Regions from separate parts of the Homo sapiens genome. Here region 2 is linked to region 1. A link means that fine-mapping ties the variant in region 1 to the expression of a gene that starts in the linked region. Tissue or cell type: lung. Region 1 holds a variant in brackets; the other region holds the start of a gene. All regions are shown on one strand. Distances are from middle to middle.

Region 1 (7,044 bases):
GAGAAAAACCCAAAAGATGAGTGAATTAACTCACATTAGTATAACAGTTATGAGCGAAAGGACTGGGAGGGCATGTTGTTAAAGGGATGATCATGGGGGTTTGGGACTAGTCGGTTACTCAGTTAATAAAGGATGTTTGCATGGGGGTAACTGAATCCAGCTATGGGAAAGTGATGGGGGTGGCAAAAAATAGTTTCAGAAAAGGAATAAAGCAGGAGTCAACATAAAGAGGTTGTCTTTGGTTATAAAGAAGGAAAAATAAGGTAGAAAAGCCCAGTAATATAATTTCTGAAAATTTGTCCCAAGGAAATACAGCAAAAGAAAGAAAAAATATAGGTAAATATATGATTGTTGGAATATTATTTGCTAAAGCAAAATGATTATACATTTAGACTGTTTACACTTATAGAATAATTAGGTTATAATATATCATCTTCTGAGAAAATATTAACCAAATATAGTTTTTATGAAGACAATCAAACTTTGAAAAATACAGGCATTAAATATTATAAAATGAAATTGAATCCTCATTATTTTTGCAGGTAGGTAAATACATACATAGAAACAAGTACTAGAAGCAAAAGTAGAAAAACAATGATTTACTGTGTTCAAGGAGGTGGAATTTTAGGAGATCTGTGTTTCTTCATTATGTTTCCATTGTGGTTTTTAAATAATCATAATCAGAAGAATGTAAAAGGGGAAAATCAGAAACTTTACTGAAGGAGACTAGATAAAAATGTTGTCATTGCAAGTATGTGGCAAGGAAAGAACAGCAAAAAAGCAAGTTTAGAATAACCGTCAGGCTAGCAGGGGAGAGGCTGAGTGTCACCAAGGATGAGTAAGCAGAGGAGGAATTGTGAAGGGAAATCAATTGGTTGGAGAAGATGATTAGTTTACATATTTTAGGGGTAGAGGAATCTTGTGTAGACCCTACATGAAACGATCGACCCCAGTGAAATGGGGCTTTAGTAAAGGTGAGGGAAGGAGACTCAGATGTTGAAGTCATTCAGTGCTGGTGGTCCTTCAAAACACATGGATGCATGAGGTTTCTCCAAATGTAAAATTAGAGAGTCAGAAACAGAATCTCAAGGAGTTTCTGTTTCTTGGCAAAAAGAGTGGGGCCAAGGTACAGAAAAATGGCATTACAGAGATGGGAGAGTCCTGCCAAATGTGGGCAGCTTGCAAGGAGGCAAGAGGAAGGAGGCAATGGAGAGGAGGTTCAAAGGGAGGAGATAGTGGGAAAGGCCCTTCAGCACACGAGGAGATGAGAACTAGGGACTGGGACCACAGGGAGAGAAAAAGGGAAGAACCATTGTAGGAGAAATGAATGTGGGATCAACTTTCCTCATGTTGCCAGTCTTCTCAGTGAAATCAAATTATGTCTTCCCAAAGAAGACCAAAGGTAGGTGGAAGGGGCTGGGGAGGTGAGGACCAGCATTGGAGGGTTTGGGATTTGAAGGGAGAAGTTTTCCAACATAGAATAAAAGGAATTAGCCCATAAATCAGGAGGTCAGAGAAGAGTAGGCAAGTTCTATAACCACACAGGGCACTGATTGGATAACACGGAACTCCAGGATGCAGACTGGAGATTAAGATGCAGGCAACAGGCCGTTAGAGCTGATCTAAATGGCCTCACTTAATAGCTGACATTTCCAAGGCTTCTCATCTAACATCATTTGCTCCTCAGTCCAGTAGCAGCTCTGTGACATACAGGGATGAGGGCCAGGCTGAGACTGTCTTTGGAAAATAAAAGAAGGTGTCTAGAAGGCTGGGGGAAATTAAGAGAGAAAGGGGGTGGTTGAGAATAAAACAGAAGGGCCCAAGTGATTAGCATTTTGGAGGGAGACACATAAGTAAAGATTTTTAGGAAAAATCAACTTTAAAGAAATTGTTCAAAAGAGTTTAAGTAATTTCCCCCTAAGTCACCCAGCTTTTCCAGACTCAAACCCAGCGGGGTTTCTGCTTCTACGACCTGTGCTTGTAGCCTTGCAGCTATGTTTGAAGTTAACACGTGGAAGTACTCAGTCAGGAAAAAGGGGTCTGTTTTGAGCCTACAGATGCAAAGGAGGCTGTGGGTTATGTGTGCTGTCTGATGGCAGTTAGCATCCCAGGGGCCATGGGGTTAAGACAAACAAGAGGTGTTCACAAGGGTGGATGGCAGAGGACCACTGTTGCACGACAGCAAGACAGAAGGCTGGTGCGTTGCCAGTATTAATAATATCTTTTATTATATTGGAGTGACTCATTTGCTTCCTAGGAATCGAGTGAAATGAACATGGAAATTGTCAGGCCTGTGGTTTCTTAAAGATGTATCAATACTTTCCCGGATTCCTCTCAGTTGAGGGAACCAGATGCTGTTTTGCTCAGGAGAAACGCTTGGGGTTTTTTCTTCCTCCCTCTGGATGTGGAGATCACTCAAACAGAGGAGCTGTTTTTTATCAAAGACAAAATTCACTTGGAAATCCCCCTATGGTTGTATGGGAAAATAAAGGCTCCCAAGATATTCATCAGGGAAGAAAATAAGACCCCGTATTTTAGCCTTGCATTGCTGAATGACTCTCAGAAGGCTATAAGATGAGGCAAAACAAATTGAATTTCAGCTATCTTGCTGTTTAATCAGAGGCTCATCTGTTTTTGCTTCTAAGACAAGTGATCAGTGTTTCAGTTTCAACCAAAATTCTGCTAAAGTCTGCTGGCTGTGGCTCACAAATGGAAAAGGTTAGGAAGGCTAACAAATTAATAAAATTCTGTTGACATCTTCCTCAATACTTTAACCTTGGCTTCCTGTCACTTAGGAATTAGCCTCATTTGCAGTTAGACTCAAATAACATTTTCAGCTTTGTTAAAATGTTGTTTTTTGAACTATTTTTAGTCTTGTTTCAAGAAGGTAACAAACTTTTCCCTCTCTCCTTTTCACAGCTTGCTGGAAAGGTGAGTATTCTTACCATGCTGTTCCCTGCTGAGATCATTACTGCTGCATTCCAACAAGACCAATCTGAAAGATGCCCTCAACTCCGTGGGAAACAGGACTTCTTCCTTCTATGCAGACAGTTCTTTCTTTTGATTATGACTGTAATTGTCAGTGTCATGATTGACCTGTTTATGAAATGGTGACTGAATCCCAGCCCCTAGCCTGGGACCCATCACAGTTTACAAGTCAGTTTCTCCCCAGTGCTGGCCCTGTGCTGCTGGGGGATTCAGTAAACATGGCTCTCTGACTAATCCACGTTCTGTTGCTCTGTCTGCTGCTGACGCCCTTGACACTGGCTTCTTGGGTGTGAGATGTGCCCTTTCCTCCCTCTGGCCCACACTCAAACCTGTCATCTCACTGAGTGCCCACTACTTGTAAACCTTTCCTGCCCATGGCTGTGGATGGTCTTCCCAGGGCCTAACCTGTAGTCGGGGCTGCATGGCACCTTAGAGCCCTTGGGTGGCAAGGCCATTGGAGCCAGTGGCTATGTCAATTTCAAAACCTCCTGGTCTCCTAGAGGCCTGCTGATGTAGACCCTCAGGGTCTTTAAGCTCGGTGCAAGTTTGGAGCCATTCACCTTAATTCTGCAAAAATAT[A/G]CCTTGCAAAGAGTAAGTGCTCAATACAACTTCATGGATTTGGATTAAATATATCTTTCATTTTTCTTATTCTATTGTTTATTATCAGCTTTCATATTTTAAAATTACTGAAATTTCTTCATGGTAAAATTCTTTGATTCAAAACACTTCTCTAAATGAATACTTCTCTATTTTTATTTCTAAGAACAGTGGTTGGGATATGGGATATTTTGAGTGTAATATGCTTTGGGAGTTAGCCAGATTGGGGATAGAGAACAGCCTGAGCAGATGGAAGTGCTTATTAAAAGAAAAATCATTTTTCTCTTCCTGTGTTCAGACTTTAACAAGGACATTGAAAAGTGAGGTTTGATACATAGGGTAGATTTTCTATGAAATTCTAAAGTTCAGTCATCATAAGACATGAGTATTGAGCTAGGAATGGCAGATAGTCCCATTTTTATAAGAGCTTATTGCAAACTTTTCTTGGTTCCCGTTGCTTCCTTCCTCTTGCCACCCTGGCCTTCACTGAAAGCCAGCTTTCCTGAAGCCCCTGAGATAGCCCCTTTTTGGAAACAGCCTCTTTATCCTCTGAATCCTCATTAAGAATAATCTTTACTCTGTACCTTATAGTATAATGATCCTTGCCAATACAAGTTCCTCGAAGGCAGTGCTGCACTTGATTCATCTTTGCATGCATTTCACAGTGAATGTTATGCTGCATTTCATGTGGTAGGTACTCAAATATTTGTTGCATAAGTGGATGGAAATCTTACATCTATCTTTATAATTAATAGATCATTTCAGAAGATTTTGGGGGAGAGCAGATTTTCAAGATCTCCAATAAGCTATAATTTATTTTTATTCATTTTTAAATTTTACACACAGTAAAATTTATTTCTCTTTGTATGTGTTCAGTTTTACCAAATGTGTAGATTCATGTAACCACTATCCCAGTCAGGACACAGAAGAGTTCCATCAGCTCAAGAACTCCCACCAATTTCATTTTACACAGCTGACTGATTGATAGTGGGCTGTGAAGTCTGAGCATTATATAGCCAAATATTCATGCTCTGCATTTATGTTAACAGCTTCAAGTTTGCAGGCCAGATTTCTTTCCTTTCTTTGCACATGGGTACCTTTAGTTCTAGAGCTGGATGAAGCACTTGCTTTGCCTCTGTATGAACCCACTTCATTGGAGTAAAGAGTTGGGGAAAGGATTTTGATCCAGTGAAATAACTTAATACTTCTGCTTTTCTTTTTTCTAGAAAAATGTCCAGCATATCCAACAGAGCTAGTATTTGCTCTGGACAATTCCTACGATGTCACAGAAGAGAGCTTTAATAAAACACGGGACATCATCACTTCCATTGTCAATGACCTTAACATCAGGGAAAATAACTGTCCTGTGGGAGCAAGAGTTGCCATGGTTTCCTATAACTCAGGCACCAGCTATCTCATCCGCTGGTCTGACTACAATAGGAAGAAGCAGCTCCTCCAGCAGCTTTCCCAAATAAAATATCAAGACACCACAGAGCCCCGAGATGTTGGTAATGCAATGAGGTTTGTGACCCGCAACGTGTTCAAGCGGACGTATGCAGGAGCCAACGTGAGGAGAGTTGCTGTGTTTTTTAGCAATGGTCAAACAGCCAGTAGGTCATCCATCATCACGGCCACCATGGAGTTTAGTGCCCTGGATATCAGTCCAACAGTCTTTGCTTTTGATGAGAGAGTTTTCCTTGAAGCTTTTGGGGTAAGAATTTCTCTTGGCAACTTCTTTAATTTTAAGATAGAGGTAGGTATTGTGATAGGGCAGGATGGGAGTGGTAGAGAGTCAAGAAATATATGTGGCCTCTTGAAAACTCCTTTACAGTTTTCACAGCTATATTGTTGTCAATGTCTGTGAAATCCAATCCTGAATAATAACAACAGTCAATGATAACAGCAACCACATTTGCTCAGCTCGTGCTGTATGCCAGGCACTGTCCCTAGAGCTTTCCATATGTATTCATACATTCTCACAGCCCTCGGAGGTCAATGCAGCTGTTGTCTCCATGTTAAAAATGAGGAAACTGGGGCTGGGCGCGGTGGCTCATGCCTGTAATCCCAGAACTTCGGGAGGCCAAGGCGGGCGAATCATGAGGTCAGGAGATCGAGACCATCCTGGCCAACATGGTGAAACTTCATCTCTACTAAAAATACAAAAATTAGCTGCATGGTGGCGCGTGCCTGTAATCCCAGCTACTCAGGAGGCTGAGACAGGAGGCTCACTTGAACCAGGGAGTTGGAGGTTGTGGTGAGCCGAAATGGCGCCACTACACTCCAGCCTGGCAACAGAGAAAGACTCTGTCAAAAAAAAAAAAAAAAGGAAACTGAGGCCCAGAGGATTTCTAGTGACTTAACTATATACCACTACTAAGTGGCTAAATTGAGATTCGAACTTAGGTCTATGTGATAGAAAGGACCATGAACATGCTGCCCTGCCAGCCCTCTACTGCTCTGGTGTTTCTCAAATTTGTTATCTGCTTGCTGTTGCTCACAGAACAGCTGGCCTTAACCAGTGATGGAAGAAGTTCAGGGGATCTTTGAACCCCTATGGTGGTGCAAAACATTTGATGTATATGAACATTTTTCCCAAAAGAGGTCCTGTCACTTTTGGATCCACAGATTCTCAAGGGATCAGTGCTCCCCTTCCCTTCCTCCTAAGAAACTTAAAAACCTCTTCATCTGTTCAACAACTTTTCAGTATATTCAGATTATCCATAAAATACATTCTTCTGGAGCTGTGTAAAGCCATCATGTCCTTCAAGAGATTATAAAGGTCTATTTTTATAAAAAATGTACAATTTCTACCATATAAAGAGAAAGAATCTCTCTATAACATGGAGAGAATCAATCTGTTCCTAACACATCCAAGCGTTTTTTGGAAATAGGAGCCACAGAGAGTTACAACAGATCCTGACAAAAAGGATTGCAGGAAGTCAAAGTCCTGTGGTTTTCAGTTTTTCTTTTTGAAATTTTTCTGCCTCCTTAATTTTTCTCTCTGGGGAAAATAAGTGACTTTCAGCTTTGAGAGTTGCATAAAATTCCAGAATACAAGAAATCTTAATAAGACATCAAATTTAATCCTTATCTTCAGATAGGACTGCACCAAAGCCCTCAGAATCCCCAATGAGAAAGAGTCTCCAGTCATTCTTGTTAACAAATCATTTTAAATTTGCATCATATCTACAGAGAAGGTGACCCAGGAAGCTATCTGGTTCTCATCACTCTGCTCTTGCCAGATAATAACCCCACACAGTCATTCTGACTGCATATCACGCCTTGAGCAGTGCTCCCTTTAGTCATTCTTTATTCTTCCCTGCCTTGCACTCTTCTCCACTCAGGACATCCTCCTCTCTGTCCCCCTCTCTCAATTCCCTCCTTCCAATCCTCTTCATCAAGTCCTCACTGCTTCAAATCTGAAGGCATAGAGCTGCTACCCTTGGTGTCTGAGAGTGT
Region 2 (7,044 bases), 85 kb before region 1:
TAATATCCCGACAGCATTGGTTTAAGGCATTGCATGTTTTTTGAAATTTGAGCTACTCCTACAAGCCCTCCTTGGTGACTTGATGTACTGAGAACTTGTCCACTTGCTTAGCAGTGGTTGTTGAACCTTGTATGTGGTGTGTACTTAAGTATGTGACTTCATTCATTGAGCGGGACATGAGATATTCTGAAGTTTCCTGTGGTTAGCTCTTTATTTCAAATGGAAATGGATAATATTACTGTTTACTTTTCCTATTATGGTGCTCTTTTATTTTTAAGTTACTTCAAGACGGTTCTGAGATACAAAAATGAGTAAGATATGGTTTCACTAATACAACCACGATTAACTAGGTGAATAGCAATTATATTTTATTGAATGAAACACAGCTTAATTAGGTTAGGCCAAGGAGGGCTATTTCCTCACCAATGAGCACACCTTGAGGGAAGGACAAAGTATTAAAGATAACTAGAATTTGAGATTCTAACACCCCCTGAAGCTCTCCATCTCTCTTCTCCACATGTCAACTCTAATCCTTAGATAGACTTTTTTCACAGTGACTGGAATGTGGTTTCCATCAACCTTCAGGGTCACATTTATCTTCTGAGGAATGGAAACCCAGTTTTTTTGAACCTGGGATCCTAGGGCTGACTGGTCAAACTTGGGTCAAGGGCCATCCCCAAAGAACTGTGGCTAGGGAGATGGGACCCTGGCAAAACAGCATTTGTCTTTGGATTGTAGAGATAGAATAAATGTTTCCTAGGAGGGGGAAGGGAATGTAATTTCAGGAATTCAAAAAAAAAAGCAGATGGATATCCAGTACAGACATTGCTTTCTGGTTCCAATTGCTGTTGGAGGTGGAGGGTTTCTCCTCATGAGACTTGGCTCCCCAGTCTTGCAGAGTTGAACTTAGGACTTTTTCAGACCCACCTCTCATGTCACCCTCTCATTAAGGCTTTATTGACTCTACGACCCCCAACCATCCACACACTGTTGGCTTCACCTTCCACTGTGATACTGTAACATGAAGTAATAAGCCATGATTACAGTGTGCTGCCAACTGTTGTGTTTTCCAGAAGACTATCAGAAAAACCTGTTGATCCAACTTACTGCAGTAAAGGTAAACACAACATTGACAGTCTTAGTAGTGTCTCAGAAAGGAACCCAGGGAGGATATTTATAGGGTTTAGGTCCTAGACTGGGTGAATTTCAGGTGGGTTTTGCAAGACGGAAAACTCTTTGGGTTTGGCAGAGTTCGTGACATGATAGCTTTAAATTGTTGGACACGGGGAGATGAAGGAGTTGAAACAAGTCTTCTAGAGCAAGCTGGTTGATATAGATAAGTAAGCCACTTTGATTAGTCACAGCCTTGTCCATTAGGAGCAAGTATTTCTTAAAGCAAGTAGCTAAGTCATTTTTGCTTATTTTCGGCATGGCTTAAACATAGAGAAAGTAAAGTATACTATATTCCAATATTATTTAGTACACAGAGAGGAAAGTATTTGGCTTCAGTTATCGATAATGCATTTTAATTGTTAACTTTTTATCTGTTGGTATATAGGCATGACCAAAGGACATTGAGTCACATGTAAGAAAAATGCTATTTTATCTTTTAATAGTTCTGATTGCATCAATGAGAAAGTTAATCATATTCCATTTAAATCATCTCACATCCAAAATCATCTTGCCTATTTCTGATAGTACGGTTTTCACATTTGCAGACATACCATCAATATTTCCCAGTGGGAATCAACGAGTGCAGGGTAGAGCAGAATTTGCTATCTTTTACTCTGATGTTATCTTCTTATTTAAAACAGCTGCAGAAATACAGATTATGAAGGTTGGGTTAATAAAAGGCAAATATAACTAATGATGAAGCCTGAAAAAAAATTTAATGTCTTTTCCACACTTTTGAAATTCTGGATTACTTTTCTTTTATTCAATATCTTTTTATTTTCTAGAGAAAATGGAAAGTGAAACCCAAGTCAGATAAAGTAAGTTCAATTGTGTTCTATTCTGTTAGAAAATTGAAAAGTTGGCACTTTTAGTGCCTGAATTCCTTCAGATATTAAACTCCAAACTTCTACTTTCTGAAGTAAATTAAGTTAATATATCCTTAATAGAATAAATGCAATTCTAAATAGTGAATAAATTTCACATTATGATTTATTTTGGGAAAACCTTGTTTCAATTTTATAAGCAGAAGAAAGGAAAGGAAATGTTAAAATCTGTGGAAAAGTTGTAGATTCCTGGAGCCACTTTTATTTCATGATTGTGAAAGTTAAATCACAAATATATTGCAAGTAAAAAAATTTCTACAATAATACTTTCTAGAGAAGTTTCTAAACAACAAAAGAACCCCCAAAACACAAACCCACAACTTCCTTTTGGCTTCAGTACTATTTGGATATTACCCTAATTGTGAAGGCAAAACCCCACCCTTCTCCTGAAGTATAAAGTAGGCCTTCTTTCTCCCTTGGGGCATTACTCTTGGTTGGGGAAGAACATCTCAATTAATAAATCTTTACACACTGAGGGTATGTGGACATCATAGTAGCAAAATTTCGGCCTGGGCCAGGCATGAATGTGAAATAGATGTATATTTTGTCCCCCCAGACTCTAGCTTCTTGATATTCCAGCCCATAGATTCTCTCTGTGCTTCACTCTGGTGACCAATGGAACATTTTCCGTTAAAACCTGGACAAATCTGAGACTCACTGATACCGAAGGGCAAGTCTTGGCATTCAAATCCAGGATTTCAGGATGTTCTGTGCAGAACACCCCATAACCCTGACTATTCCAAGTGAATTCAAAATAGATAAAATACACTTTTTTTTTAGAAAAACCATTTTCAACTTACATCAGTTTTTTCTTATTAATGAAAAACAACAAAAAAAACAAACAGTTTTTGGTTTACACATATTTGTGTTCTCTTTGAAAAAAAAAAATTTAATAATAAAAGGAGAAAATCCTGAAAGTCCTCATTACACTTCCCTCTCTTCATTCTTCCAACCCACTCTTTCTAACACATATTTAGAAACTTTCTAGTTAACTTCAGAAGCAATCTCAGAATCGGGTTCTTGCTGAGCAAGGGTGAGCTCCCATGTCTTATGTTTCCTCTTGACATTTTAATAAACTTTCATCAGTGTAAGTAATTGTAACATATCTCTTCACAGACAGCCTGAAGAAGCTAGCAGGCTGAAGCAATGGATTGATTGAACTTAACCACTCAAGCTAGGAGTACATTTACTGGCAGGTGTTATACAGATATGTAATATAAAATCTCAACCTGAGTACACGTCCATGCAAACCAACAAAAAATAAGCCATGCATGTAAGAATAGTCTATGCTTTCCAAGTTCTTCACTATGATCCATGTACTAAAAATCACAACTTCATTGTGTTGCCTGCTCCATTTCCCCATCCTGCCCTTTCTAGAAGTTGCTGGATAAAACTCCTGCTGCCTCTAGCATCAGGGGTGCGTTACTTTTTCTCTTGTAGGGCTTCCCCCAGGACTTTGCTCCTCCTTGGGCATTTTCGTTGGGAGGCTGCCTCTGAGAAATTGGGGGACTTGGAGCCAAATGGCGATTCCTCTGTCTAAGTAGTAGAAGTGACCGCAGCTCGGCTGCTAGTAAAGATTGCCCTTGGTTTCTGAGAAATTCTGACTCCCTAAGTTCATTTGGCAGCCGGCGGCTTCTCTGAAACAAAGCCAGCAAACAGCTGGAGCGTCTCTGGACACTCACATTAAAACTTGTGAAGAGTTAAAAGCCCCAGGGAAGAGCCAGGCCAAGGGCACGGGTCAGCGCCGGCTTAAAAGACCCTCTCAGGGCACGAGGCGTTCGCTGCGGGAATCCACCTGCAGCTGTGCGGCGCGGACCAGGGCGTGCGGCGCGGACCAGGGCTTCCGGCGCGCGCTCTATCCAACTGCGCCGCGGGCGCCCGAGAGGCGCGCGTTTACTGCGCTCAGGAGCTCGGTGCAGCCTCTTCTGGAGAGTTGGGGGCGGTTTCCAGGGTCCGGAGTGTCCCCTGACCCCGGGAAAGCTGGGTAAGTATGCGGTGCGGGGACTTGGGGCCTGAGGCAGGCGGGGGAGGAAACCTCGAGTAGACAGGTGGATGTGAGAAGGATTCTCCTTTCTGGTGATTTGCACCTGTTGACGCCCCCAAATCTGAGCTCTAAGGAATTTTACAGATGGTTAAGACAGGTTCTGAAAGGTAGACTCAGAATTCGAAAGGACCTTAGAGCAGTGCTATCCGAAGTGTGATGCAAGGACTAATAGCATCGCCTTGCCCTTGAAACTTGTTAGAAATGCAAATTCCTGGACCCCACAAAACCCTGTTGAACCAGAATCTCTGGGAATGGGGATAAGGAATGTGTATTTTAACAATCCTCCACGGGATTCTGATGCAGCTAAAGTTTGAGAACCATTGCCTTAGAAGTCACTTAGTCCTACATTTGAGCCCCTAGCCCCAATGCAGGAACCCCCAAATAAACAGCAATGGGTGTGTAGGTAATGAGTCAAAGGCATTAGATACTGGGGTGTATTCAGTTATAAAAATAACTTCTAAACACTCTTGGTTTGTGGGAATTCTATTCTGTCCCAAACGAAACTGTGATCTTTGAGATTTCCTAAGAACAGCACTCAGAGCTTCAACAACTATTTCTGAGTTTGTACTGTGTGCAAGTCTCCAGGTAAGGTTCTTTCAAAGTGCTGGAGGGAATTTTGTACTCTCAGGATCCCCAAGCTGGTAGCGTGTTATTTCTCTTACCAGGATCTTCATAAGTTGATGTAGTGCTTCATACATCACATTTATTTTGTTTTTTGGTATTCAACTGCTTGTTCTGAAATTAATCATTGTTAACTCAGGGTGTCAGGTTAGGTATCTTGGAAGATATATATTTACTTTGTGAATTCTGAACAAAAATCCTTAAGAAAAAATTCACACTGCAAGATTTTTTTCCATTTTTTCTATTTAAGTTTACAGTGCTACAATTTACCAATAGAATAAGTAGGAATCCTGAGATTTCATATGAATTAAAGTAGAGAAGATAATTCCCAAGTTTTTAAATAACTCCTTCAGATGAGGCAGGCTCTTCATCACTGCTGAGAACCTGAGCCATTAATCTTTGATGACGAATGAATGGTTTTGTGTTGTTATTATTATTCTCCTTTCAGTGGCTTAACTTAAAATATGAAATCTAAATCCACTGCTGACTTACTTGGAGACTCTGGAGCAAATTTATTTGCAGATATTTCTCAGTTTTCCCTTTTCTTCAATGGGTGGGTGCAGGATGTAAGGTTTTGATAGGGAACCTGCTAGCATTATCTTAAAGTAGTTCCCCGGAGGACCCTGTGTGGTTATGATATTGAACTATTATTAATATGTTAAAGCATAGAAAACATTCAATACAATGATTTTATATTTAATTATTTTATATATATATATTAAGTTAAAACATCTAAAAGGCTTTTTCACAGATTTCAAAAACTAATCACCTCTCTGTTTGAAAAGAACTTTGGAAATGTCAGTAAAATTGGGAGCCATTGCTAGCAATGTTATGAGCCTGTGAAAATAAAGTTTGCCACTGTAAATATTTCCCATCTTGAATCATAGCTACATGCAGAAATTGTTCATAAGTATTCAATGAGCATATGCTTAGCATCCTTCTATAATGAAGTGTAAGGCTGACACATATGTCTTGTTTGCATTGTATTTCATGTTGTGATTTTCCTTCCTCAAGTTCAAATCATCTTCCAAAAAGGAAGAATTTTCAACCCCGGAGCATATACTCAGAATCCTCCAGCTCTGAGAGTGGAGGGCACAAATTCACTTGGAATGTGTACTTTTCTTGGTATTGCAGTTTGCTTTGATGATGCCCCTGTCAATCTTGTAGGATCTCAGATCCAGTACACACTGAGCAAGTGGAAAGTGCAAAGGAAGAGGAGTTGGGCACTGGGCAAAGTTGGGATCTAAGATAAAACGAGATGCATGCCTACTTTATGAGGAAGGGCTGACTGGTGGTGCATGTGGCAGTTGCAAACATTTTTGTTGCCCCATCAATCCCTGGTGCTTTATGATACTTCCCTAAATTCCTCTGGCCTATTCCCTAACATGCACACAACTCACTACCCACAACCATTGCCACTTGCCATTCTCCAAGGAACCATTCTTTTTTATTTTTAATTTTACTTTAAGTTCTGAGATACATGTGCTGAACATGCAGGTTTGTTACATAGGTATACATGTGCCATGGTGGTTTACTGCACCTATCAACCCATCATCTAGGTTTTAAGCCCCACATGCATTAGGCATTTGTCCTAATGCTCTCCCTTCCCTTTCCCCCAACTCCCTGACAGGCCCTGGTGTGTGATGTTCCCCTCCCTGTGTCCAGGTGTTCTCATTGTTCAACTCCCACTTATGAGTGACAACATGCGGTGTTTGGTTTTCTGTTCTTGTGTTAGTTTGCTGAGGATGATGGATTCCAGCTTTATCCATGTCCCTGCAAAGGACATAAACTCATTCTTTTTTATGGCTGCATAGTATTCCATGGTGTATATGTGCCACATTTTCTTTATCCAGTCTATCATTGATGGGCATTTGAGTTGGTTCCAAGTCTTTGCTATTTGTAAATAGTGCTTCAATAAACATGTGTGCATGTATCTTTATAGTAGAATGATTTATAATCCTTTGGATATGTACCCAGTAATGAGATCGCTGAGTCAATTGGTATTTCTGGTTCTAGATCCTTGAGGAATCGCCATACTGTCTTCCACAATGGTTGAACTAATTTATACTCCCACCAACAGTGTAAAAGTGTTCCTATTTCTCCACATCCTCTCCAGCATCTGTTGTTTCCTGACTTTTTAACAATTGCCATTCTAACTGGCGTGAGATGGTATCTCATTGTGGTTTTGATTTGCATTTCTCTAATGACCAGTGATGATGAGCTTTTTTTTATGTTTTTGGCCACATATCTTCTTTTGAGAAGTGTCTGTTCATATCCTTCACCCACTTTTTGATGGGGTTGTTTGTTTTTCTGTTGTGAATT

Evidence for each region. PIP is the estimated chance that this variant, and not a neighbour inherited with it, causes the effect.
Region 2: COL6A5 starts here. The variant in region 1 is fine-mapped to the expression of COL6A5 in lung (TOPMed, PIP above 0.99).

The regions. Positions count from the first base shown.
Region 1 is chr3:130,426,654-130,433,697 of GRCh38, forward strand. It overlaps COL6A5 (collagen type VI alpha 5 chain), which reads left to right. Exons shown (of 41, transcript NM_001278298.2): 32 at 2,920-2,931; 33 at 4,812-5,296. Among named protein-coding and RNA genes, the nearest start is that of COL6A5, 85 kb to the left of the region's middle. The variant A/G (reference allele first, on the strand shown) is at 3,568.
Region 2 is chr3:130,341,941-130,348,984 of GRCh38, forward strand. It overlaps COL6A5 (collagen type VI alpha 5 chain), which reads left to right and starts at 3,732. Exons shown (of 41, transcript NM_001278298.2): 1 at 3,732-4,041.